Linked DNA regions of Homo sapiens: region 1 is linked to region 2. The links come from fine-mapping of genetic effects on gene expression. A gene starts in region 2. The other region holds a variant in brackets. All regions are shown on one strand. Distances are between the middles of the regions.

Evidence for each region. PIP is the estimated chance that this variant, and not a neighbour inherited with it, causes the effect.
Region 1: its variant is fine-mapped to the expression of RFX2 in whole blood (TOPMed, PIP 0.95).

What each region holds. Positions count from the first base shown.
Region 1 is chr19:6,052,474-6,067,885 of GRCh38, reverse strand. All of the region lies in intron 1 of RFX2 (regulatory factor X2), which reads left to right. It overlaps RFX2-AS1 (RFX2 antisense RNA 1), which reads right to left and starts at 5,288. Exons shown (of 2, transcript NR_199041.1): 1 at 5,118-5,288. RefSeq lists enhancers at 1,694-1,988, 1,503-2,004. The variant A/CA (reference allele first, on the strand shown) is at 7,925.
Region 2 is chr19:6,099,107-6,114,015 of GRCh38, reverse strand. RFX2 (regulatory factor X2) reads left to right here and starts at 3,516. Exons shown (of 18, transcript NM_000635.4): 1 at 3,516-3,623. RefSeq lists a silencer at 3,195-3,654 and an enhancer at 4,502-5,002.

The sequences.
Region 1 (15,412 bases), 46 kb after region 2:
GGCAAACCTCCGCTGAGAGCTCCTTGAAAGGTATGCTTGGTCATGCACAAATCTATCAGCATTGTGTGCTTTTATCATCCAAAATGTTGACCCATCGAGGCTGCAGCTACATGTTGCTCATTCTATCAAAATGTTTTAAGATCCTTGGCTGGGCCCACCAAAAACAAGAGCACTGCTTAGAGCTCTGTGTTCCCCTTGAAAGGTGGTGGTGCCACTTCACCCTCTCCTGGTCCCAAAGCCTCAGAGAAGCCATGCTCAGCCTGAACTGCTCCAGGCAGAACAAAAGCTGCACTAGCTTCAGTTTAGCCCTTTTCTTTTCCCCCTTCATGGGTCGAGATTGCCCAACCATGTGCCTCCTCTTTCCGGAGATATGTGTCCCTTGTGTGTCCTGCCATCTGGGGGCATCTGATGTGGCCTGGCTTCCTCTTAGAAAAGTCTTCCTCTCTCCGGGTAGGGAGGGAAGAGCCGGCGCAGTGATGTCAAAGATATACTGTAAGTCCCTCCCGGCAAAGCCCCACAAGGCATTTCTGACGCTGAGTCAGTGGTTCCCTTTGCACTTGTTCCATACGTACATGATATTTCCAAAAGTCGTTTTAATTTGGTATCAACTCCTCTGTTTTCACACTTTTTTCCAAATAGCTTAATCCATGATTCATTTTACTTCGCCCAGAAAACACTTGTGCAGCTATGAACTCTCCCACATTGTTTGTTTGATGATAAATAGATTCTTTCCTCTTGGAGAAAAGGGCACTTTCTCCTCCCAGTACTAGGAAGGATTGAAATCCCTCCTGTGATGCCCTCTTACCTCAGAGAGAGTTGTTCCTCCTTGGGTTTTGTTATTTCAGAACAAATATGGTAAACTGTTTTCCCCTCAGTTACTATAGAGAAGAGATTATTTGCCTTTCTCTTAGGGCTTCTGAAAATAATAGATTACATATTTGAGAGGGTTTTTTTTAGATCTGGTTAATGTGAGATAGAGGGGGTTGCTCCGGGATGACATTGTTTGGTTTGGGAAGTATTCTCCCGGTTGCCCAGCAACAGGCTCTTGGAAACGGGAGTGGACTGCGTTGCCCCTGGCAACCGTTGTTACTTAGCAAACAATGAGGGCCGGGCAAACAGTGCCAAGACTGCGGACTCCAGGTTTTAATTGAACATCTGCATATATTTTTCTCTGATTAAATTTGAGTTTGATTTGCCACAACAGGCAGACATGGATCCACTCGGGATCTGCTTGAAAGAACCAATATTGTAATGTTGACTCCCAGGCTGCACAAACGCAGAGGCCCCATTGAAACAAACTTCTGGCCATTCGAATATGTCCTAGACTGCTCTCAACTGGAGACTTATTTTAGTCTTAAGTGGAATTTCTTTTTTGATCTAATTCCTGGTGTTCAGAAAATCATTACTTGTCCAACCTACTACCGTACATCACTGATAAATCCGCAATTTCTGGAGCGCTTTTCAGCACGATGCCTTCATTTCTGCTGCCTAAGAATTTCAGAAGAGCAAAGAGTTGAGCCCTGGCTGGCTCACATGTAGAGACATTCACAGATAGGGTTGGCTGAGGGTGGAAATTGGACCCAGCACCTTCTGGTTTCATGTGCTCAATGTTCCTGTTAAGAAGTTGGGTCCACCCGTGGCCCTCAGTGGGATGTGTATGTTATGTTTATTAAGAGAGGTCGCACGTTCCCACTAACAAAGTGCCCTGTTGATGGGCACTTTGCAGCCACAGGTTGGATTTTGATCAAAACAGCCTCACTCCCCCACCTCCTCCGCTGGCAAGCCAGAGATAGCGATTGTTGACAAGGGTTTGTTGCTTAGGTAAACACCACCCCTGAACTTCATTCAGAGCGGGTGACACATTTCTTCCCCTCCTCCCAGCCCCGCCCCCAGCCCCCGCCCCCACTGCCAGGGCTATAAATTCAGAACTGTTAGCCAAGACAGGTTTTTGGTGAAGACTTTATTCTTCCTCATTCATCTCGAGTGCAATCTGACTAATGCAGCAACAGCCGCAAAAGTGCCGCCTGTAACAGACACTCCAGCCCCTCACTAAAACAGCTCCTGTGGTTCCCGTGGTGAGACTCGCTTTAGTTGTATGGATTTTTTTTAAGGACGATTCACTTTGTTGCTGAATGCCCCCAAGAAAATGTTCATTGCACGTTTGTTACCGGCATTTCAGCTAATCTTAGGACTATTTAAAGTATCTAAACAAATTTCCCAACTTTCTTTTGCAGCAGAAACTTATAATGGAATGTCATTTGTGTTTTTTTTGGAGACAGAGTCTCGTTCTGTCGCCCAGGAAGCTCCGCCTCCCGGGTTCACGCCATTCTTCCGCCTCAGCCTCCCGAGTAGCTGGGACTACAGGCGCCCGCCACCGCACCCGGCTAATTTTTTTGTATTTGTAGTAGAGACGGGGTTTCACCGTGTTAGCCAGGATGGTCTCGATCTTCTGACCTCATGATCCACCTGCCTCGGCCTCCCAAAGTGCTGGGATTACAGGCATAAGCCACCGTGCCCGGCCTTTTTTTCTTAAAAAGGCAAGCTGATTAGCCATCAGCCTTATTAGATGTGATAATTAGGATCCAATGGCTGCGAGTGTTGTTGGAATGAAAATGAATAAGGTCTGACTTACACAAAGACTCCCCCAAAGATTAAAATACATTATTTGTCCTGCAACCTGTTGTAGGATAGTGGTAGAAGACCACTATATACTTAAAAAGATAAATCCTCCCAAAGAAATGCTGTTCTACCTTCTACAATATTATTTTCTGCCCAGTCCCCAGTTTAAGTAAGTCATTTTTCAGGAATTAGAGCCTCATTTAAAATTTTTTTTAAATTTATCATTTTCTTATTTCCCATGGAAGTATTTTCCCATATATCAGGCTTTGCAATTTGGGCAAACCACTTAACATCTTTAGGTAAGTTTCTTCATCTGTTTGATGAAAGAGCTGGGTTAGGTGGTTTTTAAAGGGGCCTCTCCATGCTGTGGTTTTAGATGGAAATTCTTGAATTTGAACTAGGCTCTTTCTCCGCTTCTTAAATTCCAGAATCAAATCACGACTGGAGGGGAGGTAGGAGGTAGATTGAAAAGGTCCCCTATGTGATGTTGGTGGGATCCAGAAAGCCAGCCTCCTCCTGGCCAGAATCAGTCATGGAGATGTGGAAAGAACATGCACTGCCTGTTGCCCTGCCCTCACTGGCTGTCTCTAGAGATGGCTGTCAGGAGGAAGGGTCACACAGGCAGGACGAGACCCCATCCCCAGGTGGGCACAGGTGCCCAGTGGGCGTGCTGCCGGGTCAGGTCACCAGGCTGAGAAAGCAGGAGATGCTACTGCTGAGGAACTGTCACTTGTCATTTCAAGGTCCACTCCTCCACCCTCTGGCAGCATGAGTCGCTCTGAAAGATTTTGAAGCTGGGACAGGAGAGGGTGAGTGAGGTGAGGCCTCCGCATGCCAGGTTTTCACTGGCACATTCCCCATCTTCATCTTGACCATCAGCAGCTGCACTGCAGCCCTGCTCATGGTCAGAAAGGGAGAGAAACGTGAGAGGGAAAGAAAGGCTGGTAAGAGAAGGAGAACACAAAAGCATGATGCCTTAGGAAGCCGCTTCCAAGAATCCTGGGACAGGCCCCTGTGCTCAGCTGAAGACGGGAGCTGGAGGCCAACATGGTGAAGGTGGCTAGAACAGGTGAGCAGCCCGGAGCAGGCGGGCTGCTCATTCTCTTGTTCATTGCAAAACACGTCTTGAGCATCTTTGCAGGCAATGTGCTACGTAGGGTCTGGGGTTGGGGTGAGGGATCTGTGAGGGGGCTGCTGAGATGACATAGATCCAGACTTTGTTTTCTCAAGAAGGGCTGGCTGGCCAAGAAGCCAGATGTGAACAGCTGCATGACATGAAGTAATCTGAGGGGACAAGCACGGAGAGTGGTTTGGTGAATCTGGAAATGCTGTGTGGAGTAAAGGTGTGGCCTTAGACGTGTGGTTCTCCATGGGGGTGGTCCTGCCCCCAGGGGACACTGGGCGATGTCTGGAGACATTTGTGGCTGTCAGACAGGGGTCGGGGGGTTTCCTGGCATGGAGTGGGTGGAGGCCAGGGATGCTGCCCAGCACCCTGCGGTGCCCAGGACGGCCCCACCCCAGAGTGTATTCCTGCCCCTCATATCCGCATTGCTGAGGTCAGGAAAGCCTGTATGACATGACAAGCTGACTGGAGAGAGGGTTTCCCCACTGCTCATCACTTGCCTGGGATCCCCTTTGGAGCTGCTGGCTGCTGTCTCTCTGCCTCCCTCCTTCTTCAACGCAGCAGTCACTTTAATCTTAGCTGTCATGGGCGGGTGGACTTTGAGGGACAGAGGGCTGCCCAGCCTGCCTGGCCCTGCTGGAGGGGTCTTGTCCATCCCCACCCTGGCAGGTGCATGGACCCCATCCTCACCCTCCCTGCGTTGTGTGCAGGAGACACCAGTGCCAGCCTCCGGTGGCCCTCCATGCACTGCAGCCACCTTGTCACTGCGAGTCTGGACCGCTGTGTGCCATGCTGGCCTCCCTCGATTCTGCAGACCTTAGACTTGCAGGCAGAGGCTAGCTGATCAGTGAAGGGCTGGCGCTCAGGCCTGGGGGTCTGGCAGGCGTAGGCTCCAATTCCGTTGGAATCAGAGGGTCCTTGGGGGTTGTGTGGACATCTCATTTAAACACTCCATCCGGAATCAGAGGAAGCCCGGCTTTCCCCACAGAGCAGGCGCCAGGGGAGAGTTTCAAACCAAGTAGCTGGATGCATGAGGGAGAAGGCGGCCTAGGAGCAAGAGCGAGAGCGGCAGGACAGGAGGGATACGAGACACAGCAGCTCACGGGAGGGGATGTGGGTGACCCCAGCAAGGGCCAGGCACCAGAAAAGGACAGACAGGTGACATTGGTCTCTGGAAGGGGAGGGAAAGGACGAGCAGATATTGAATATGCGCGACTGGCCAGGGAGCGACCCCCAGATCTTTACATTCTGAAAAACCCACTGCTTTAAACGCACAGGGAACTGCTTGTGGGGATAGACAGAGGGAACGATCATTCTAAGTCACGCTGATTTACCTTTTCCTCCTGGTTACTGAGAATGAATGAAGAGCACTTACTTCTCAACTGGAACCACAGAGGGCTGGAGAAATGTCCAAGTCCAGTTCGAGCTCATACAGTCACTCCCCACGGGGACTGTATCAGTTCATGATAGCTCCAATAGCATCAACTAAATTCTAGAAACTTCTAAAGCAAAAGCTAAGCTTGTGTTGTTATTTGGAGTTCTCTTTGGCATGGGGTTGGGGAAGCGATTTATATACAGAAAAGAGACGGAAGCTCCACGTAGGTCGGGAAGCTGTGGCTCCGGAGGCTCTAGTCATAAAAACATGTGCTTCCTCCTCCTAAAGGAGTGACTTAGCCAAACCCAAGCCAAAGCCAGTTCCAGTCTAGCCTGCCTCTTCCTGCTTTGTGACCTTCAGCTCATGGCTCGCCCTTTCTGAGCCTCAGTTGCGTGTGTGTTGTGTCTAGAGCAGAGGTGATGTGGTCACGGCTTCCTCAGAGTCAGTCAGCCCCCACGTATACCAGCTTTGCCCGCAGTCTGGGGCTCGGTCTGGCCACCAGCTACTGCCGCTGCTGTTGTCCTTGGGGTTGTGTCCCTCTTTCTTTCGGCTAGTTTGGTTTTTTGGTTGTTTTTCATTGTTTTGTTTTGTTACTTGTTTATTCTTTTTAGAGACAGGGTCTTCCTCTGTCTCCCAGGCTGGAGTGCAGTAGTGCAGTCAGCTTACTTCAACCTCAAATTCCTGACCTCAATAATCCTCTGGCCTCAACCTCCCAAAGTGCTGGAATTACAGACATCAGCCACCTTCCCCGGCCCCCAGTTTGTTGTTGTTGTTGTTTGTTTGTTTGTTTGTAGAGATGGGGCCTCGCTATGTTGCCCAGGCTGGTCTCGAACTCCTGGGTTCAATGGATCCTCCCGCCCCTGCCTAGGACATATTTCATTGATCAGGCACCTGCTGGGATCCACACTCGGGGTGGGCACATCAGCTATATCATTCCCTTCCCCCTCCCAGCCCCTTTCTCAGATGAAGAAACCAAGGCCACTGCCACAGTCAGTAAGCGAGTGACAAGCCTGGGACTTGAACCTGAAGCCTGGCCTCCTCCCTCTGCTCCGGGTGGTCATACCTCCTTCCCAGCCACTCGGCATTCCCCTTGGCATTTGTTCTTATTTATATAAATAATGGAGGTTGCAAAGTCTTTTTCCCCCGGCTGCAGCCGACTCCCCAGTAAGATCCAGAGGCGGGGCCGGGAGTAGGAAGGGAACCAAATGTTCCGTTTCTTTGGATGCATTCTGTGGGGCAGGGCTCTCTGCCTGCCTACGGACAGTCTTCAGGTGACAAGGTCTTGATCAGCCAGACTTGTAAGTGTGAAGGGTAGGCTCCAACCCTCTAAAGAAGGGATCCTACAGACAGCAGACCTTTTCGACATCGAAATGGTCTGGAACCCCCACCTTGGTAGTTAATCCCTTGATTTAGCACACACACTGTCTATGCGGTGAAAATTCTTGGGAGGATTTTTTGAGCCAGGGAATGAGAAGACATTGTTATCTTTTGAATCACCCCAATGTGAAAGAAAATTGGCTGGGAGAGGGCAGAGGCTGGAAGCAGGGAGACCAATTAGGAGGCGGATGTGGTGGTTCCAGGTAGGAGATAGGGAGGCAGGGGCTCACTGAAATAGTAGCAGCAGGAGCGGAAGGAAGGGGGAGGCAGAGATGGTATCAGGTGGAGACAGCAGGCTGAGTCACCAGCGACACGTGTCCCGGGGCGCAGGGAGATGCCCAGTGCCTTGAACAGCCCCCTGGCTTAGGAAACGCAAGAGGAGCAATTTTGGCGGGGGGAGAGTTTCCCTTGGACTTGTTGAGGCACCTGAGGGGCGCCCAGGCAGAGAGGTCTGGGAGGCAGCTGGAGAAGGGAGCCGGAGTCAGGTGATTTGGGTGGTGCTGGGAGTCCTGGTGCCGGGAGGTCGTCCACATTGAGTGTGACAGGGGAGGGGCACAAGGGTGGAGGCCGAGGGTGGGAGACAAGCAGGGACCAGTGCAGGGGACTGAGAAGGTATCATTAGGGGGAAAAATGAAACCAGATGACAACAGCACCCAGACACGAGGGAGGACAGAGCTTCGAGGAGCGACACGAAACACTGCAGAGAGTACAAGTTCAGAGGAGGCCCGAAAACTGCCCCGTGAGGACCTCAAGAAGAACAGTGGGCAGACATGAGAATGCAGAGAGAAGACGACAGAGGCTCCCTCCTGAGAGTCTGGACTTACAAATAAAAAAGAATCCATATCTCAAGAGAAGATAAAGGATAAAGAGCAGGGTTTCAGTGGCAGTGGATGTTCTCCTCAAATGGGTGTGATGTGAGCTTGTCTATAAGCTGAAAGAATGGAGCCTGTGCAGAAGCCAGATTGCAGGCTTGATCGGTGGGTCCTTGGAGGGAGACGGAAGGCTCTAGAACCTTCAGGAAGGGGGCCAGCAGCCTTTTCCTGTAAAGGACCAGAGAGTACATATTTTAGGCTTCTGCTGGGGTCTGTCTCAGCTCCTCGCCTCTGCTGTTGGAGCACAAAAGCCATCATAGATAATGGGAAAATGGGAGTTGAAGATGCAAGGAACTGGATGTAGACAGTCTGGATGTGAGATAGTGGGGGGAGGTCAGCACAGGGAAGGAGTTGTGGGGTAGAAGGAAGTGGAAGAGACAGCATGGCAGGGGCATGGCTGAGAGCCAGGAGGTGCAGAGGCGGTGTCAGAAAAGGGGGACAAAAGAGTTGCAATTTTAGAATGGAATCTTGCAAGGAGAAAAGTACAGAGAAAAAAATGTACTTTGAGGCTTTCTCCCAAAGGCATGTGTGTGGATGTGTGAACACAGGCTCCCCCCC[A/CA]TCACTTTTTACTACAAGAATCGTTGTTTTTGTCTAGTGGGAGGAGTCAACATTCAATTTAATAGAAAAATGTATGGAGTAAGAAAATGACGTGTCTTCTGAGTGGTTTTGGCCATTCTTCTCATATTATCCTGCGTCAGGTGGTGTATGTGTGTGCATGTATGTGTGTCTGCATGTGTACTTTTGTGTATACATGTATGTACATGTGTTTGTGTGTGTGTGTTTGTGTATATGTGTATGTCCATGTATATTTGTGTATATGCATACGTGGGGAGTGTATACATGCGTCTGTGTGTGTGTGACACTCTCATGTCCACTCCTGGGGGACAGATATCCACTCCTGGGGGACAGAGCACCAGCTGCTGCTCGGCCTCTAGCTTGGTATCCAGTTACCTTTCACTCCAATGTGTTGGACTTTAGGGCACCCCATAACCTAAGGAGAATTTCCATTTCCTAGAAACCAAGTTTTGTGGTGTTGAAGTTATTGCTAGAAGCAGTGGAATCAGGTTGCCTGCCAAAAGAGTATTTGCTGGGTGAAAGTGTCATGAAGACTTGGTGGTTTTTTAATTCAAAATTCACCCTGAATTTGGTATATTATTGATGGCAGTTAAAATCAGACCACATCAGAGATGAGGTAACCATACTTTAGTTTGGACAATTTTTATATTAATAGTCAAATCAAGGCCAGGCGTGATGGCTCACACCTGTAATCCCAGCACTTTGGGAGGCCGAGGTGGGAGGATTGCTTCAGTCCAGGAGTTCGAGATCATTCTGGGCAACATAGCAAGACCCCTGTCTCTACAAAAAATTAAAAATTAGCCGGGCGTGCTGGTGCTCACCTATAGTTCCAGCTACTCGGTTGGCTAAGGCGGGAGGGTCACTTGAGCCAGGGAGGTCGAGGCTGTAGTGAACTATGATCGCATCACTGCACTCTAGTCTGGGTGACAGAGCAAGACTCTGTCTGAAAAAAAAAAAAGTCAGGTTTCTAAAGGGGAAGGAACGGGTGTTTCCACTGTTAAGACGGGGGTCCCTGGCTTAGGGGAGGCCTTGTCAGCGCAGCCTGCTCTCAGCCTCTGAAGATTAGAACCTGCGACTTAAGGGCCTACTGGGTGTCTGCACTCCCCCATCCCCCTTCCAGTCTGCAAACAGCCCTTTCTCAGGCCAGTTGTCAAGGGCTTGGTTCTGATCCTTTTCTAGAGAAAGGAGGGAAAGTTTGGCTCCTGAGAAGAAAACAGGAACAGAAGCCCAATTCTTACGAAAAGAAAAAGGAATTTGAATTCTGAAGATACTTGATTTCAGAGAAGCTCGGAGCCAGCTCCAGTCCTTGAAAGCCCATTGCTACAAGAGGAGAAAAAAAAAAAACCCAAAAGTGAGGAATGACGGGCACCCCCGTGGCTTAGGCACGGAGGGAACGATGGTTGCCCTTGGTGTGCATTGAAGCCTGCTGCTCTGGAATGTGTGGGTAGCCTTCAGAGGGTCCTGTTCATTTATTTCACACTCCTTGCCTGGCTGAATTGTCATGATTTTGCATCCTGCCTACTCTCCTTTTTCATCTTCCTGTTCTCACCCTGTCTACAGGCCTGTTTTACTCGGGGGCTGTTTGTCCAGACCCCTTCTTAGACATCACAAATCCATTTTGAACAGAGGTCCTTCTGCGCCCCAGGGGACACTGGGCAATGTCTGGGAACATCTGTGGTTGTCACAACTGGGGGTGCTCTTGGCATGGAGTGAGCGGAGGCCAGGGATGCTGCTCAGCACCCTGCAGTGCTCAGGACGGCCCCAGCCCAGAGATGGATCCGTCCCCAATGTCCACAGTGCCAAGTGGGGACACACACTGTCATCTTTGGTGATTATCAGGGCAGAGTAATAACTCTTGGCACTGAGAACCAACTGGGTCCACAGGGAGTAATCCTGGTGCCAGAAAGGACATGGTTCCACCATCAAGGAGGGTTCGAGAATCCACTTTTCGGCAAGGAGATGGCTTGGAGGTGTCCTCCCTGTGCGTGGGGCCAGGCCACACAAGCCTGAACAGTGAGGACAGAATCTTAAAACACGCATCACTTACTCCGAGGACCTGGCCCTCAGAGGGGAGCCGGGAGAAGGAAACGGACAAGACTTTTCTGGGCAGCCTAATGACACTGGGAGTGTTAAGACAAGCTACCAGGACAGAATCTGGGCTTTGAAGCAACTGGTACTCCTGAGAGCACTCCGGGCTTGTTCCTTCTTGTTCAGAGGGAGGAAATTAATTGCTTTCTTAGGGCAGATGAACTCTGGTACCATCTGGAGGCCAGCGAGTACCAGGAGAGGAGGAGCTGATGGCCGGAGGAGGCCACGTGCCTCCCAAACACCGAGGCTCATCAGCCAATCAGAATGAAGGTAACTAAAACCACTCAGCTAACTCTGCCCCAATTATCACCAAAGATGACAAAACATTGTCTAAATACTGATCTGAACTATGTGAGGCAGGTGACAGCTCCATTTGGCATATGGAGGAACAGGAATAGAAGAGAGATTGCTTAAGGTCGCAGTGAGTCAGCGGCTCAGCCAGGAACGGGCCCAGAAATTGCTCTCAGCGTTTTCTGCATTTCCTTTCCTGACATTGCTGGTTACTAGGTGATGGGAGTATTTTTCTGTAAACAGAAGCCTCTTCCCTTTGTGCCCAGGCAGATTCATTCATCACGGCCGTAGTCCAGGGCTGCTTCTAGCTGCGTCTCTCCTGTGCCCCCTCACATGAAGTCAGGAAGCCACGGGAGATGTTCCCACTGGCGCGTTTGACTCAGCAGTGGCTCCAAAAGGTCAAGTGCGCATCTGGTTCACTTGAATGTTCGTTCAAGGTCAAATGAGCGTTTCGTGGATTCCAAAGGCTGGTGCCGGCCAAGGAGGGGAAATTGCGCCGCTGGTTCTGTGCTTTTCCCCTTTATTTCATGCCCGCCCTGATCTTGGACCAGATGGTAAATGAAACGTGCTCAGCTTATAAACAGCACTCCGGGCATATTTCTGAGGCACGAGGGAGGGAGCTTTGGGCCAGCCAAGCCCGTTGGCCAGGCAGGGCCAGGCTGGGTGACAGGTCGTGTTGCGGCCCCTCCCCTTTATATTGGCTGTTCCGAGGCTCCTGTAACCCAGTCTAAGAGGACACAGGGGAAGGCAGTCAAAGTAAGACTGCCCAGGTCCTCGCCACAGGAAGAAAAACAGAAGAGAGGACAAAGGAACGCGAGAAAGCAAGGACGGCAGGGCAGTCACTGAATGGGTCCAAGTTCCCACAGCAGATTCAGGTTCAGAGAAGAAGCATGGCCTCCACTCACTCACATCTACTGTCTTGCACTGGATTGAGGGGTTCCCAAACTGGGTGCTGCAAAGGTGCTCCACAGTGTGCGTCCCTGTGCCCTGTGGACTTTACCTTGAGTACACCCACGCCCTCGGGGCCCTGCCCTCTGCCCACTCTCTGCTGCGCTCTCCTCTGCCAGGTGGAGGAGTTACTCAGGATCCAGCATCACCCCTTCTGGGAGGACCATGTGAGCTACTGCGCTTACCTGGAAGCACCGCCAGGATCATGAGCCACTCCTGCTCATCGCTGGTGTCTTGTGTGTGTGTTTGTTTAACTCCTTATCATGGAAATTTCAAACATCCACAAAGTAAATACACAATGCAATGAAACTTATGAAGCCACCACCCTCTACAGGGTGTCAGGGTCCTGCCATTCTTATAACACCTGGATACCTGTACCCACTCTCCGTCCTCCTCTCCACCCTTGTATTTTTACAGGCTTCGTTGTCATTGTTAAAATTCACATACAGTAAGTGCACAAACCTTAGCTGGCTAATTTTGACAAATCACGACTCCATGTAACCGCACACTGTATTATCATACAGAATGCGTCCATCTCACTGGAGTGTCCCCTCCTGTCCCTTTCCAGTCACTCTCGCCCACCGCCACCTGCCCCCCCACCCACTATTATGATTTTTTTTTAACTTTAGTTTTAATCCACTCTACTCATCTACTCTTTTGGACTCAACTTCTTTCACTCAGCGTAATGATTTTGAGATTCATCCATGCATTGTGAATTTCAGTAATTAATTCCTTTCTATTCATGAAGAGTATTCCAGTAGTATTCCTCTATTAGCTTTTTAGCTATGCTCTTCTTTTCCATTTTTAGTGGTTGTTTTAGGGTTTTCAATATGAATCTTTAAATCATCATAATCTGCAATTTCTCGTCCACTCTCCTGATGAGGAACATTTGGGTTATTTTTACTTTTTGGTGACTGAATCAAACTGCTATGAATAAGGCTGAGGTGGGCAGATCATTTGAGCCCAGGAGTTTGAGACCAGCCTGGGCAACATGGTGAAACCCTGTCTCTACCCAAAATACAAAAATTAGCCGGGTATGGTGCTGCGTGCCTGTAGTCCCAGCTACTTAGGAGGCTGAAGTGGGAGAATCGCTTGAGCCTGGGAGGTTGAGGATGCAGTGAGCTGTGATTGTGCCACTGTACTTTATCCTGAGGGAGACCCTGTCTCAAAAACAAAAAACAAAAACCAACAAACAAAAAGCTGCTATGAACATGCTTATACAAGTTGTTATTATTTTTTTGAAGAGATATGTCTTCATGTCTCTTGGATAAAAACTACAAGAGGAATTCTGGGTTAAAGGGCAGGTTTAACTTTCTAGAAAACTGCCAAACCTCTTTCCAGTGTGGTCATATCATTCATATCTACACATGGGGGTGTGTGAGAGTTTTAGTTGCTCCATGTACTTACAACATTGGATGTTGTCAGACTTGTCAGGTTTAGCCATTCTAGTGAGTATTTAGTGATATCTTGATATAGTTTGAATTTGCATTTCCCTAGTGACTAATGAGGCTGACCACTATTCATGTACTTTTGGGCATCTGTATATCTTGCTTTGTGAAGTACCATTTTTTTAAGTTATTTGTCATCTTATATTGAATTGTAGGAGTTTATATATATAGATATAGATGTAGATATATTAGGATCAAAGCCCTTTATGAGATACATGTTTTGCAAATATTTCTCCCAGGCTGTGGCTTACCTATTCATATTCTTAGCAAAATCTTTTAATGAGCAGAGGTTTTAAATTTTGGTGAAATCTAATTTCTCAAGTTTTTCTTTTATGCTGATTTGTGCATTCTAAGAAACCTTTGTCTAACCTCCTATGTTCTCTCTGAGAAGTCTTATAGTTTTAGCTTTTGTGTGTAAGTAAGTTCATGTTCTAACTTGAAATCATTTTTATGTATGGTGTGAGGTAGGGGTCAAGGTTCATTTATTTTCCCCAATATGGATATTCTGTTGATCCATCACCATTTGTTTAAAAGACTTCTTTCTCTGTTGAATTGCCTTGACACCTTTGTGAAAATCCAGTTGAGGAAGAAAAGAGCTGAGGCTCCATTAGAAAAAAAAATCAATTGATAATCTAAGTGTGGGTTATATTATTTATATATTGTTGAATTTGATTTATTAATATTTTAAATTATTTTTGCATATATGTGCATAAGAGATATTAGTCTAAACACTTTCCTTGTAATATATTTGTTAAGTTTTGGTGTCAGGGTTTACTGACCTCATAAAATGAGTTGTGAAGTATTCTTTTTTTATTTTCTGATGGCATTTGTGTAATAATTCCTTTTTCAGTATTTGATAGCATTCACCAGTAAAACTATATGTGCCTGAAGTTTTCTGTGTAGGGAAGTTTCCAATAACATATTCAATTTTTTTGTTATATGTATTACATTCACATTTTTTTATTTCATCTGTGTCAGTTTTGTTATGTTGTGTTTTTAAAAAAGTGTTCATTTTATATGTTATTGAATTTATGGGCTAAAGTTGTTTGTAATAGTTCTCTATTATCATTTTGATTTCTGTAGAATCTCTAGTGATATATTTCATTTCATTCCTGATATTGGCAATTTGGGTTTTCTTTTCTTATCAGTCTTTCCAGGAGAAGTTGTTAATTAACTTTTTTTAAATACTTGCTTTTTTTTTTTTTTTTTTTTTGAGATAGAGTCTTGCTCTGTCACCCAGGCTGGAGTGCAGTAGTGCAATCTCAGCTCACTGCAACCTCTGCCTCCTTGGTTCAAGCAATTCTCCCACCTCAGCCTCCTGAGTAGCTGGAATTACAGGTGCCCGCCATTACACATGGCTCATTTTTGTGTTTTTAGTAGAGACAGAGTTTCACCATGTTGGCCAGGCTGGTCTCAAACTCCTGACCTCAGGTGATCCACCCGCCCTCGGCCTCCCAAAGTGCTGGGATTACAGGCATGAGCCACCATGCCTGGCCAAGACTTGCTTTTTTAAAGAGCAGTTTTAGGTTCACAGCAAAATTGACAGGAAAATACAGAGATTTCCCATATACCCCATACCTCCACACATGCACAGCTTCCCTCATTATCACCATCACCCACCAGAGTTGTACATTTGTTACAGTTGATGAAATCTGCATTAACACAGCATTTTCACCCAAAGTCCATAGTTTCCTCGAGAGTTCACTGTTGGTGTTGTACATTCTATGGTTTGGACAAATGTATAATGACATGTGTCCACCATTATAGTGCCATACAGAACAGTTCCAGTGTCCTAAAAATCCTCTGTGCTTTGCCTACTCATCCCTCTCTCTGATACCTGGCAACCACTGATCTTTTCATTGTCTTCATAGTTTTGCCTTTTCCAAAATGTTGTTTAATTAGAATCATACAGTATGTAGCCTTTTCAGACTGGCTTCTTTCACTTCATAGTATGTGTTTAAATTTCTTCCATGTCTTTTCATGGCTTGATAGCTCCTTTCTTCTTCTGAAAAAATTTCAGTTTTGAAGAAATATTGCTTTTGTTCATTTTCTCCATTGTTTGTGGAGTTTCTAATTTCATTAATTTTGTTCTTTATTGTTTTTCCTTCTTTCTATTAAGTTTAGTTTGTTTGTCTTTCTATATAGCTTTTTAAGGTTGAAAACGTTCTTAAATCTTTCTAACATAAGCATATAAAGCTAAACATCTCTTTCTAAGCACTGCTTTAGGTGTGCCCACTTTTTTTTCTTAATAATTTTACTTCTTTTTTTCACCCACAATATTTGTACCAGTGCCCACAAATTTTGATACAAAGTGTTTACATTATAATTCAGTTCAAAATATTTTCTATTTTTCTTTGGGGTTTATTATTTGACCCATGGATTATTTTGAAGGTGTATTTTAAGTTTTCTAAATATTTGGCATTTTTCTAACCTTCTTACTGATTTCTAATTTACTCCACTGTGGTCAAAGTGCATACATGCTCTGTATAATTATGGTATTTTGAAATGTATTGAGGCTTATTTTATGGCCCAGAACATGACCCATCACAGTGAATATTCCATGTGCATTTGAAAAGAATGTGCAGGTTTTGATTGTAGTGTTCTCTAAATGTCAATTACATCAATGTGGTTGATAATATAATTCAGATATTCTGTATCCTTAGTAATATTTCTGCTTAGTTCTTCTAATTTTGAT
Region 2 (14,909 bases):
CGATACAGCAAGACTCCAGCTCAAAAACAAACAACAACAACAACAACAAAAGACACCCTCCATTGGTTTCCCAGTCTGATCGTGACTTCTTCCCTACGGCCTCCAATAAAATGATGGCCATCATATCATCCCCTGACTCACTCACCCCACCCACTCACTGCTCTTCCCCTTTCATTGGCTCCAGCTGTGCCCAAGGACCTGCTTTCTGTTTCTTCCACATCAGCTTTCACCCCAGGGATTTCGAATTCCAAACTATTTTCCTTTGTTCCTCGTTACTCCAACGTTGCCTCAAATGTCAGCTCCTTAGAGAGACCCAGGGTGACCAACTCTTCCCGCTTTGGGGATTTCCCGGTTTTAGCACTGAAATTCCCATATCCTGGGAAACCCCTTAGTCTTGGGCCAAGCAGGATTGTTGGATATCCCAGGGAGATCATCTCTGGCTGCTCTATCTAAGGTAAGCCCCACCCACCCACTTCTCCCACCAAGCCACTACTGTATCACTTTTCCTATGGCCATGGGAATTTTATCTATTTTATTTACACCTGTGTCCCTAGCACCTAGCAAATAGTAGGCGCTATCTATCTATCTATCTATCTATCTATCTATCTACCTATCTATCTATCATCATATACTATATATATACACACATATATGTGTGTGTATATATGTGTGTGTATATATATAAATGTATATATATATATATTAGAGACAGGTTCTTGCTCTGTCTACCAAGCTGGAGTTCAGAGGCACAGTCATAGCTCACCACAGCCTAGAACTCCTGGGCTCAAGCGATCCTCCCACCTCAGCCTCCTGAGCAGCTGGGACTATAGGTGTGCACCACTGCGCCTGGCTAATTTATTTTATTTTTATAGAGATAAGGTCTCACTATGTTGCCCAGGCTGGTCTTGAACCCCTGGCCTCAGACGATCCTCCTGCTGAGTCACTGCACTTGGACCTCAATAAATATTTTTGACTAAATTAATAATTGAATGAAAGGGACTGATTACTGTAGACCACTTGAGCTTAAGAATCTGTCACATGGCCAGGCGCAGTGGCTCCTGCCTGTAATCCCAGGACTTTGGGAGGCTGAGGCGGGTGGATCACTTGAGATCAGGAGTTTGAGACCAGCCTGGCCAACACGGTGAAACCCCGTCTCTACTAAAAATACAAAAATTAGCCAGGCGTGGTGGCGCGTGCCTGTAACGCCAGCTACTCGGGAGACTGAAACAGGAGAATCACTTGAACTCGGGAGGCGGAGGTTGCAGTGAGCCGAGATCATGCCACTGCACTCCAGCCTGGGCGACAGAGACTCTGTCTCAAGAAAAAAAAAAAAATTAGAAGATGATGAAATCAATTTAGCAAATCACCGTCAACATTTTAATTAAAATGAAACAGAACAGGAAATATCAGAGTGCGTTAAAGTATCATTTCACGGTACTTTAGTTACAGTATCATTTGTTTTAGTTATAGATATGTTTGTGTGGACTGAGCCCCTAGGTAAAATGTATTTCCTGCTGTATGCTGTGGTCAAAAATGTTTGAAAACCACCCATCTAGTGATCAAGAGCATGGACTTTGGCACTAGACTACTAGGGTTCCGATCCCTCACAAGCTGTTTGACACTGGGCAAATTCACTCATTCTTTCTGGGCCTCAGCTTCCTGATCTGAAAAATGGGGAAAGGCCGGGCATGGTGGCTCATGCCTGTAATCCTAGCACTTTGAGAGTCCAAGGCGGGCGGATCACTTGAGGTCAGGAGTTCCAGGCCAGCCTGGCCAACATGGTGAAACCCCGTCTCTACTAAAAATACAAAAATTAGCTGAGCGTGGTGGCGGGCGCCTGTAGTCCCAGCTACTTGAGAGGCTGAGGCAGGAGAATCACTTGAACCCGGGAGACAGAGGTTGCAGTGAGCGAGCCAGATCGCACCACTGCACTCCAGTCTGGGTGACAGAGAGAGACTCTGTCTCAAAAAAAAAAAAAGAAAAAACAAAACAAATAAAAACGGGGATAATGCCTAGCATCTTTCTAAAGATGCGATTGTAAGATTTAATGAGTTTGCATATTTAAAAAATGCTTAGATCACTTTCAGGCACATAGCAATTTAATCAGTGCTCACTAATATGATTTCTTGTTGAATGAATGAGTGGGGCTGAAGCCTAATCTCCTGCCTTTTCTCAGTACAAGTTGTTTTCTCCTATTCTTCCAGCCCCTTGTCTCGAATAACTATATGTTTACCTCTTTATTCTGTTTGCTGTCAATGTTCCCTCACTAGAATAAAAGTTCTATGAGGATCTGTCTGTTTCTGTCCTACTCGTAGCTGAATCTACCAGCTTGAGAGGAGGGCTGGTGAGTTTGGCAAACATTTTCTGTAAAGGACCGTATAGTAAATATCTTAGGCTTCGCGTGGGACATGCCGTCTTTGCGCAACTACTCCACTCCGCCCCTGTAGTGTCAAAGCAGCCTTCCAAGCTGTTCAAGGAAATGGGCGTGGCTATGTTCCAATAAAGCTTTATTTACAAACCCAAGCAGGCAGAATTTGACCCGCAGGCCGCAGTTTGCCAATCTTTAAACTAGTTCAAAATACTGGGCCCAATACAATAAAAGAGAGTCTCCTATCAGGTTCACACCCCACAAAAGCTCCTTTTGATAGTTTCTTTTTTTTTCTTTCTTTCTTTTTTTTTTTTTTGAGACGGAGTCTCGCTCTGTCGCCCAGGCTGGAGTGCAGTGGTGCGATCTCGGCTCACTGCAAGCTCCGCCTCCCAGGTTCGCACCATTCTCCTGCCTCAGCCTCCCAAGTAGCTGGGACTACAGGCGCCTGCCACCACGCCCGGCTAATTTTTTGTATTTTTAGTAGAGACGGGGTTTCACCGTGTTAGTCAGGATGGTCTCGATCTCCTGACTCCGTGATCCACCCGCCTTAGCCTCCCAAAGTGCTGGGATTACAGGCGTGAGCCACCGCGCCCGGCCGATAGTTTCTTTTAACCATGTAAAAAATATATATATATTTAAATTTTCAGCTGGGGGTCCGTGAAAAACAGGCGGCGAGCGAGAGTTTGCTGACCCCTGATCAGACTGTTCCCACATGTCCCACACTCCTCCTGTGGGGTAAACGGAGTCCCTTGGGTCCCCTAAAACTGGACTTTCCCAAAACGCGCCACCAACCCACGGCGCCGCGCGCGCGACCGGTTCGCCAACCCTCTGAGCCGCGCGCGCCTCCCGCCAAGACCCGCCCCTCTTCGCGGCCATTGGCCGAGTCTCGCACTCTTTTTCAAGGGGGAACGCCTCCTCCTTCCGACAGACTCTGCAGACAGCCAATGGAACGCCGTAGGGTCTCGCGCCCCGCCCTCTTGGGGGCCCGTTGGAGGCGAGCGTGGGCGGGCCGTTAGGAAGGTGGGGCGCGGAGCCTGGTAACCGTTGCCGGTAACAACGCCCCGCCCCGTCGGGCGGGCGGGCTGCGCGAGGCTGGCTGGCGGCGGGAGCCGGAGGAGGAGCGGCCGCCGCCGCCACCGCCGCCGCCATAGAGACTGTAGCCGTGGAGACTGTTACTTACCAACGGGGACCAACACGCAGCAGCCGCTGCCGCCGCCGCGGGAGCCGCTGCCCGAACTCCCGGCCCGAACTCCAGGTGACCGATGCGACCGCCCCGGGCCCAGCCCGGCCGGGGAGTGTGGGGGGCGGCGGGGACCCCGTTCGGGGGCCGGGGGGCGGGCAGCACGTCCCCGCCGCTCACCCCAAACGTCCGGGTGGTGCGCCCGCGGGACCCGCCTCCGCCACCCCGTCCGCGCGCGCGGCGGAGTTTGGGGGGACCCTGGCGACGTCCCCACTTTCCTTATTGACTGAACGCGGGGGAGGTGCGGTGCCGTCGCCTCACTTTTTACAAAACTTCCTGAGGTTGGGGCGTCCGGGGACCCCTTTCTCACGCTTACCTTCAAACTCGCTGAGTTGGGGGCGCCCCGGGAACGTCTCTCAAACTCCTCAAACTCCCTGAATTGGGGGCGCTTGGGGACCCTCTTCTCACCTTAACCCCCTAGATCTCTGAGTTGGGGGCACCCAAGGACCCCTCTTTTACTCATACCCTCGAATTTTCTGAATTGGGGGCGCCAGGGGACCCTCTTCTCACGTTTACTCCCCAGATCTCTGAGTTGGGGGCACCCAGGGACCCTTCTTTTACTCAAACCCTCGAATTCTCTGAATTGGGGGCGCTTGGGGACCCTCTCCTCACTTTTACTCCCCAGATCTCTGAGATGGGGACACCCGGGGACCCCTCTTTTACTCATACCCTCAAACTCCCTGAATTGGGGCCACCTGGGGCCCTCTTCTTACTTTACTCCCCAAACCTCCGAAATTGGGGTGACCCCAGAGCCCTTCTGTCACTCTTAGTCGCAAACTTCTTGCATCGGGGGGACCTCGAAGACTCCCTTCTCATTTTTACCCCAAATTCCTAGATCTGACTTGTCCCGGGGACCCCCTTTTTAATGGACTCCCAGACATACTGAATTTGGGGGCACCCCTGGAACCTTTTTCTCATTCCTTAACTAAAAGCTGGTGCGTCTGCCCTGGGGAGAACCCCTCTTGCCCTTCTCACCTTTTCATCCCAAACTCCCCGAGCGAGCTTCCCCGGGAACTGTTTCTCACCTTTTTGCCCCAAATCCTCGCGTTCAGGTCGCCTCGGACACCCCCTCCCCTTCTCCCTGTGACCCCATATTCCTGAGTATAGGGGTTCGTGCGTCCGCCAGTCTTTCCACGTGCCCCCAAGATGCCCCTCCGCACGTCCGCAGCTCTCCTCTTAGGACTGATCTGGAAGGGAGAAAAGTTTCACCAACGCGAGTGAAACTTTTTTTTTTTTTCAATTTATTTATTTTGTTAAAGAACCTAAACTGCTCCAGGCATTTTCTCCGAGGTAGTGCGAGTGCGTGTGTGTGTTTGTGGATTTAAACTCCACCCCCTGCCCCCACCGCCCACCAGCGCGCTCGCGGGCGCACACACACACTCACACACACACACTCACTCACACCCCAAATGCTCATTTCTTTCTTTTTCCTCCCTCCGAGAAGCCTCCGCGCTCCCTCGCCACCAGCCTCCGGCTCCGTTCCTTTTGGTTTTCCTCGCTGCACCGCTGGGAAAGTTGGATTTCCCGATCCTAGTGGCTATTTCAAGGGCCCCCGAGGGCCCCAAGCGCCCGGGCCATTCTGGCGGCTGCCGGCGCGGTTCATCTTCCTATTTTAACCTCCTGGTTGTGCGGCAAGAATGGGGAGGGGAGAGGGCAAGATGGAGCTCGGGACCCAGGGCTGGCTGCCTTACCCCCGCCCCCCCAGGCTTCATTCCTACTTTGGGGTGTTGTTAGCATTGTGCCTCCCTGCAATTATTTTCCTGCTTTGTATCATAAATGACCAGCGCAGGCTTCGATGAGTTCTTTTCCCTCTCAGTCAGCTTCATCTCTGTATCAAACCTTGTACAAGCTTCATTCTCTGTTTCAACTAAGAGTTCCCCAACAAAGTAACAGTAATAATAATAATGACACAAAACAACAAAGACTTTTTAAAAAAATTTTTGCCTGTACATATTGTTGACATGTATTTTATCTTTTTACATCGTGCCCTGAAACATTGTTTGCTTATGGAAAGATCCTTACCTCCCGTCCTTCTGGATAAGGAGGAGGGGGGCATCTGTGCTTTCTCCTGCTCTAGTTTAAAGACTTGAACTGACTCTAAAATAACCTTAGAAACGACAACTCACCTACTCTGACCAGAGAAGTAAGAGTTTATGGTAACCTCCCTAGGAAAAGAATTTAAGTTCTTGAATTACTAGGGCTTCTTCATCAACAGGCGTGGTACGGAAGGCAACTTATAATGTATGATGGGAAAGATCACTGTTCTGTGATTCTGTGACAGTTCAACGGACTTGGGTTGGGAATGAGTTCTGAAATAGTTTGCTCCTGCAGGAAAAGCAATACTGAAATATTTTAGTTTTTTAAGTTCTTTCTTATAAACCACTGAATCTGAGAAGAGAGAGACAGTTATTACCTCAATAACAGGACAAGTTCTTTGAAATCACTTGATCTTTGCTTTCTGCGTGAAGGGCACGCATTACCTTAATGTATGTGTGATGTATATTTAAATACAACAATATAATATAATGTGTATGTGATGTATATTTAAATGTAAATACTCATCTTTTAACATTGTTTATCATTGAAGTACTGCTAAGGATGGTTCTGTCCACCAGAAATGCAGGTGCTGGGGAATTGTTTATCTGGGTCTTATTCCTTAGATCTAATTGTTTAGTTTTACATTAGCATTATAATTAATAAAAATATTAAATTGGCTTAACTTTAATATTATAATCGAGTCAAAATTTTAAATGCACCTGTGGATTTTTTTTTTTTTTTTTTTTTTTTTTTTGAGACAGGGTCTCACTCTGTCACCCAGACTGGAGTGCAGTGGCAAGATCTCAGCTCACCTTAACATGCACCTCCCAGGCTCAAGGGATTCACCTGTCTCAGCCTCCTGAATAGCTGGGATTACAGGCATGCACCCCCACACCCGGCTAATTTTTGTATTTTTAGTAGGGATGGGGTTTCACTATGTTGGCCAGGCTAGTCTCAAACTCTTGACCTCAAATGATCCAACCGCCTTGGCCTCCCAAAGTGCTGGGATTACAGGCGTAAGCCACCAAACCCGGCCCCTGCACCTGTGGATTTTTGTTTGTTTGTTTGTTTGTTTGAGACAGAGTCTTGCTCTGTCTCCCAGGCTGGAGTGCAGTGGCACCATCTCGGCTCACTGCAAGCTCCACCCCCGAGGTTTACACCATTCTCCTGCCTCAGCCTCCCGAATAGCTGGGACTACAGGCGCCTGCCACCACGCCCGGCTAATTTTTCGTATTTTTTAGTAGAGACGGGGTTTCACTGTGTTAGCCAGGATGGTCTCGATCTCCTGACCATGTGATCCGCCCACCTTGGCCTCCCAAAGTGCTGGGATTATAGGCGTGAGCCACCGCGCCCGGCCGGCACCTGTGGATTTTTATAGTAGCTAGTGATTGTTTTGCTCATAAAATGCTGGGGCCAGAAGGAACCACATCTTATAATATATATTTGTTTCTAAAGTTGACATCTATTTATTAAATATTTAAATATTTTTAAAATATATATTGAAATATTAAAACATGTATATATAATATATACTTATATATTTAAATATAATAAAATTTAAATATAAATATATGTTAAATATAAAACAAATATATTTAAATATTTACAAACATTTAAACAGTATACCCCCATAGGTACCCACTTACTTGTAAAATAGGAAACTTTTGAAAAACCAAGGGAAGTTCTCATCTTGCTTGTCAGGACACTCACTAAACTGCAGGGGAGGAGAATGCGAGTCTGTGGGCCTGTCTCTGAAACTATGGGTCCAGGGCATTCCCACTAAACACAGCCGTATTTCTGAACTGAACTATATGAATATTCACCCGAAGTGGGGAAGAGAAGGACCATAAGTAACTTCATGTCAATTCAGGCCAGCTTTTGTCACCAAGTGAGTCCATGCCAAATTTACAAAAAAATTGCCAGTTTTCAGAGTTTCCTGGATTTCAGTATTGTTGTAAGGGGTTGTGGGCTTATGTATTTTTTAAAAAGATGTTTTGACTCCGTCTCTAGAATTTAAATGGCAATTAGCTCCTCTGCTGGTCATGTTCTCATGTTCTCTCATGTAGACATATGCCTGGTGTAGTGAAAGGTCTTATTTTGTTGGATGGATGGATGGATGGATGGATGGATGGATGGATGGGCAGGCCGATGGAATATACACTGGGAATTAGAGAAAAAACTGAAAACCACCTACTTGCTTCTTGGAAACTCTAAGATCAGCAAAAGGATTCTCCCAGGAAAAAAAATATAGGGGAAGACCCAGAATGAAGTGGGCGAAAGGGATAAGGGTAGGTGAAGGAGGAGTGGCAAAAGGTCCAGAGAGAGGCCCTAACAGGCCTATAGGGAACTGGAGCCTGGGAAGCTCTGGACTGGCTTAGGATTCTAAGCTCTTCTCTGCAGAAAACATCTATCCAGCTGCCTGCTGGGTACATCCAGGTGGATTCTGACAGGCACCTTAAACTTAAGGTGGCCAAGCTGAGCCTGTCATAGTCCCCCCAGATCTACTCCTCCCAAAGCACCCCCCAAACTCGTTGGTACATATCAACTCACTTCTTCCCATTACTCAGGCCAAACCTCAGGACTGTCCTTGACTCCTCTCTCCCAAGCCATCAGCAAATCCTGTTGACTCCACCTTCAGTAGTTCCCCAGAACCTGACCATGCCTCGCCACCTCCACTGCCAGCCCCTCTGGTCCCAGCCACCAGCATCTAGCCCGGATGATTCCACCACTGGTGCTCGGCAGTCTCTCAGCCCAGCAGCCAGACGGGGCCTGTTAACCCTGGGAGAGGCGGCGTCATGTTAAGTTCTACTTCATACCCCTCAGCTCGAAACCCTCCGATGGCTCCCATCTCATCTGCAGCAAAAGCCAAAGTCACCCCTAACTCCACTCCCCGCCAAGCCTAATACCTCTTTGACCTCATCGCCAAGCTAGATGCCTTCCCTCACTGCACTTCCACCCTGCTGGCCTCTGGAAGCTCATTCCAGCTCTGCCTGGAAAGCTCTTTGCCCAGGTATTTGGAGGGCTGGCTCTCCGACTTTCTTCAGGCCTTTTCTCAGATGTCACCAGGCCACCCACTTGAGAATGGGTGCTCTCAGCCTCCTTCCCTGCTTTCTCTGTCTCCTTAGCATTTATTCCTATATAACACACCATAAGTTATACGTATTTATTGTATTATCACTGTCCTCTTGTTAGAATGTCAGCTCAGTAAGGGCAGGAACTTCTGTTTTATTAACTTCTTTTTTTTTTTTTTTTGTGAGACGGAGTCTCACTCTGTCACCAGGCTGGAGTGTAGTGGTGCAATCTCGGCTCACTGCAACCTCTGACACCCAGGTTCAAGCAATTTTTCTGCCTCAGCCTCCTGAGTAGCTGGGATTACAGGCACGTGCCACAACGCTCAGCTAATTGTTGTATTTTTAGTAGAGACAGGGTTTCACCATGCTGGCCAAGATGGTCTCGATCTCCTGACCTCATGATCTGCCCACCTCGGCCTCCCAAAGTGCTGGGATTACAGGCATGAGCTGTTTTATTAACTTCTATATCCCCAGGGCTGAGAAGAATTTTGGTGCTGAGTAGGCAATTGAGAAATATTTGTGAAATGAATAAACAAATGGTTTCCTTGACACTTATGGGGAAAGCATATGTAGAAATGAAGAGTTGAGAGCTGCATTGGGTGTGGTGGCTCACACCTGCAATCTCAGCTACCTGGGAGGCTAGGGCAGGAGGATCGCTTGAACCCAGGAGTTTGAGACCAGCCTGGGCAACATAGCGACACCCTGCCCTTAAAAATTTTTTTTTTTTTTTTGAGATGGAGTCTCACTCTGTTGCCCAGGCTGGAGTGCAGTGGCACCATCTCAGCTCACTGCAAGCTCCACCTCCCAGGTTCAGGCCATTCTCCTGCCTCAGCCTCCCGAGTAGCTGGGACTACAGGCATCCACCACCACAACTGGCTAATTTTTTGTATTTTTAGTAGAGACGGGGTTTCACCGTGTTAGCCAGGATGGTCTCGATCTCCTGACCTCATGATCCGCCCACCTCAGCCTCCCAAAGTGCTGGGATTACAGGCGTGAACCACCGCACCCGGCCAAAAAAATTTTTTTTAAATTAAGAATTGCTCATAGGTACCTTAAGTTCATATTGCCATCTCTGAGTCAGTAGAGCCCAAATTGGATGAATCTGGATGAATGGGGCAGGGGAAAGAGGAAAGGAAAAGTTGCAGGTCATAGTGCTGGGTGTTGCAGACCAGGGCTTTGGGGCACAGCAGAGAAGGAGTTAAATTGTGGTGCCACCGTTTATTAGCTTAGTGGCTCTGGGGCAAGGTTTGACATCTGTGAAATCGATAATAATAGCTCGTGTGGTTGCTATATTAGAAATAATTTCTATAAGCTATTTAGCACAGGGGCTGGCATCTAATAGGTGCTCAGAAAAAAGTAACTGTTGTTATTATTATTATTATTAGGATGAAGCAAATAAGTAGTAAGTGGCCTGGGATGATCAGTTTTTTACTGTGGTTTCCTGACCAGGACCAAATGCTAAGGAGGCGTTTAGTACATACATCTTGCTTGACTGAGTGGTCGGCCTCATGCTGTCTGTTTTAGGGTAGGAAATTCCCTTAAATTAACCTAGAAACTCATGGGTACTAATATGTCCCTCTGCAAACATAAGTGCTTCGTAAGAACAAAAACAGCACGAAAAGTTGTTGGAGTCCTACATCTTGGTTGTGGCATGGGTCCCTCTGAAATGACTCCCCAAACATCACATTTATGATGAGTTTTGGGGAGTGGCCAGCTCTACAGATGAGAACATTTTAAGACTGGTTTCCCTTCTCTGTTATCACTGGCTCTTGGATGCCAACACAGTCAGAGTCTGGAAATGAGCCACTTGGAGCCGGGGACTGGCCTGGTCTTCGTGCCAGGACTTGAGTTGGGCCCTTAGGAGCAGACGGCCTGGCCTTGCTGCACCTCAGTTGTTTTTTCCTGAAAGTGCATTCCTGTTTTATGATACATAGGTCTTGCATGTTTGAAAACCCTGTTGTATGCCCTGGCAATTCCTTATTCTTATTTTTAATGTTTGTGAATTCCATGACTTTCTAAAAAGTACAGTTGACTTGCCACTGCCTGTAGATGATACATAAAGCAGATAGATTTTAAATGCTGTCAGTCCATTTACACCTGCTACAGTCCATGTTTCAAAGTGGAGAAAAAGCTGAAAAGCCATTAAAAATATGTAGAACTTACATGTAATGGTCCAATATAGTGATTATTTGTCATTTATTACATAATGAAGCCCAGATGTGCTATATATGGTAAGCCTATTTCTACTAAGATCTCTGCAGTTTTTTTGGACGTGTGTGCATGTGTTTGTGTATATGTCTGAGACTGGGGGATGGGTAATTCATAATAAAAAACGAGATGAAGTCTCGCTCTCTTGTCCAGGCTGGAGTGCAGCCTCAAACTCCTGGGCTCAAGCAATCCTCCTGCCTCAGCCTCTCAAGTAGCTGAGATTATAGATGTGAGCCACTGTGCCTGGCCATAAGAGGCTTCTTGTATTTGAACTTGGCTGAAAAATTGAACAGTAGAGACAAAAAAGCAAGGCCGTGTGATGCGGACTGGGCTCCTGGCGTCCAGCAGTTTTTAAGGAGGTGACAGTTGAGCTGAGACTGAAATGAGGAGAGGGAACCAGCGCTGTGGGGTTCAGAAGGAAGAGCCTTCCAGGAAGGGGGCAGCAGGTACAAAGGTCCTGCAGTTGTGTGGCTGATGCCTGGCGAGCAAAGCAAGGAGAGGCAGAAGAGGCAGGGGCAACCTGCAGGGCCTTGGAGGCCATGGGCAAAGTTTGGATGCTATTCGAAGTATAAACTGGATCATTGGTAGAGTTCACATCAGCCGGTACCTGTCAGATCAAAGGTGTCCAGTCATTTACCGGAAGACCTGCTTTTCAGACTCCTGACATTTGTTCATCATTCATTCATACAATCTTCATTCATTCATCCTTCATTCATTTATTCATTGCCTATTTTGAGTAAAGTGCTATCCTATCCAGTTACAAAGACCAAAGACCAACAAGGAAGAGGAGTCAGTATCAAATAGGCTTTGCTAGATGTTTCTACAGGGCACAGAGGGCAGACAAAGTGGGGAGGCCAGCTGTCCCTGGAGCTGAGGAAAGGTCTGAAAAGAGGATGTGGATCTGAACTGCATCTTGAGAATAGTGTTCTGCAGGCAGCAGATGGGGGAGAGGGGTGTGGCCATGTTTTCAGGACTGGGCGGCCCATGTTTTCATGTCCCCGTGAATGTGATGACTATACACTATATAAGTGGAATCATAGAGTATTTGTGTTTCCGTGACTGGATTATTTCACTTAGCACAATGTCTTCAAGGCTTATCCATGCTGTAGCATGCATCAGAATTTCCTTCCTTTTTAAGGCTAAAGAATATTCCATTGCATGGATATGCCACATTGTGTTTCCCCATTCATCCATGGATGAACACTTGGGTGGTTTCCACCTTACAGCTATTGTGAACCATGCTAAGCAGAGATCTCAAAGGGACTCTTAGGTAGAGGGAGAACCTGGACAGAGGCTCAAAAGGCAAAGGAGGAAATAACTTCAAGAACTGAGCACCATGAAGAGTGAGATCCAATGGCAACCAGAAAGATTAGACTTGCCCAAGTCCCATGTGAAAAAGGATTGGGTCCCCACAGAAAGGCAGAAGGCTTGACTCATGAACGCCTGTCTCCTGGAAAACTGTTGAAATTATACCAATGATATAGAAGTCCATTCCTAAAGCTGCAACAGCACTTAATTATACTTTTTTAAAAATGCAAACTGTTTATCTTTTAGAAACTGTGCCATGTTTCCAAGGATACATTTCTGTCCAAAAGGTGATCTGTGGGGAAAGGCCTTAGAAGCAGTTTCCAAAAAAATTACCAGCCCACAAAAATGTATGCGGGCTCCACCCAGGCCAGTGGAAACCCAAAGAAAATAACACGAAGGCCTTTTTCCCACCTCTCCTGTCCTTCTCAGAATACATACAGACAGATGTAGCCTGCCTTGAGAAAAAATATATTTGGAATTCCAGACCCACTGAAAACAGACTAAAAGATGTGCTTCTGATTTTAAAAGGAATTATTCGTTTTCTTGAAGAATTCACCCTACTAGGGACTTCAGTGAGGAGCTCTCTGGGGTCTCCATCCATTTCTTTAGAAAATATTTGTGGGCCTGAAATATCAAACATCTGAGGAGCTTATAATTAGTTAAGCATTTACGTGTATTAATATATCGTCATGTGGACAGTTGAGAGGGGAGAAGGCACTAGACAAATTTAAAATTGTTAGAAACCATTGGCAACTGATATTCAGAGCCTAAGTTAAAAGCAGGATATGTCTCAGGAGCAAATCTTTTGTGTAAATCCTGGTATTTTTACTGCAGACCTTTAAAATGACAGACGCGGGTGAGTAAAAATTACTTCTGGAAATGGATATGATTAATTAATTCAATTAATTAATTCAATTAAATCAATATAATTCAATTAATTAATTCAATTAAATCAATATAATTCAATTAATTGCCAGCCTTGGTTCACACTGATGAGTGTGCTCATTGGAGAGACTCAGCATGCAAAAGAAAAGACTCATCAATTTGCAGTTATTTAATTTCACGAACTGCCGGATGGTGGAGTCAGTAGCAGCGGCTGGGCCGCAACATGGCGCCTCCCACCTAGACTTCCGGTCAGGAAACTTCCACCTTCCTCCGATTTACGTGGGCCTGCATGAGCCTACTTCTCTTCTTATTCTAGTGCCAGTGGCCTCTGGAGTCTTGGTCCTTCTTACTGGAAGTAGCCCTCCTCTCCTGTTACAGAGGCAATAATTCTCCAGCCTTCCGGTCGCCGCCAAAGCCTCCTGCCTAATCACTTCCTGTATTGTCTCCCTGCGGCTCTTTGCACAGACCTTGGGCTCTGTCGTCTCTGGATTCTTACTGATCTCTTCCTCTTCTCCCAACCGCCTTGTCATGTCTCTTTGAGCTATGTCAGGAGGAACGGAAGGGCACTTTCTTACTACTTTTGTTAGCCAAACGGACAAACTGTCCCCTCCCCTTTGTTGTAACCACACATTCAAGGCTTCCTTCAGTCCAGCCCCATCTCCCTTTTCGTTGCCTCCCTTTCACTACTCCAAATGAGCTTGCCATACTTTAAACGGGTCTTGTACTTTCTTATCCCTTCTCTGGAATGTCATTTCTACTGAAGAAAATCCTACTCTTCCCTCAAGACCCTTCTTTAATCCCCTCTTGCCATGGAAACTTGAGATTTTCATTGAGGAGCTAAGTTGGAAAATATAAACTAGAGCTGAGTCTCTACCCTGGCACTATTGACATTTGGGGCCAGATTATTCTTGGTTGGGGAGACTGTTCTGTGCACTGTAGGATGTGGAGCAGCCTCCCAGGCCTCTACCTGCCAAAAGCACACTCCCCTTTCCCCAAGTGGTGACAACCAACTGTTTCCAGACATTGCCAGATGTCCTGAGGTGGGAGTGAGGGTGAACAGAATTGCCTCCCAGCTGGGGGCTGCTGGACTAATCAACAAGAAGTGGCAAGGACTGCAGGCAAATTGCCTCAGCACTTAGATTTAGCACTGCAAGGCCACTTCGACAGGTGGTAGTGATTTGTGCGTCTCATTTCCTATTCTTGATTGTGACAAGGTTCTGGAGGATGGAGACAGCTACCCCTGCCACAGTTCCCACAGGCTATGTTGTACATAGGGCTTCATATTTAACATGTGAGTGAATGAAACACATGAGCCCGAGTGCTCTTCAGGACGGCAAGGCCTACATCAAGATGGTAAACCTTCAGTTCTTAAAAAAAAAAAAATCACGCAGCCCGTGCCTGAGATCCAATAACCTTCAAACTCCATGTTTTCGATTTGATCTCAATTAACATTCCAGCTCTTTCAATATGTACTTTTCCTTTACCAAATTTCAAAAGAAATTTTAATCAAAGACCCCTACTGTTAATTAATTTCCCTTTTTACCCAGCCAAAATTGCAAATGAAGTTCTTTTTCCAGAAAGTTCGGGGAGCGGGGAGGGGTTTTATAACAGAGCTGCTGCTGAGTCTCATTGCTAGGAGCTGAGTACACAGTGGAGAATATGAAATCCCGAATTCTATGTCCCAGCCCATTGCAGTGGCTTGATTTGTCTCTTGTTTTGCTTTGGAACTTTTCAAAGATTTCACTCTGTTAAAAAGTCAATTTGGAACAAATATAGAGCTGTTATGTCTATT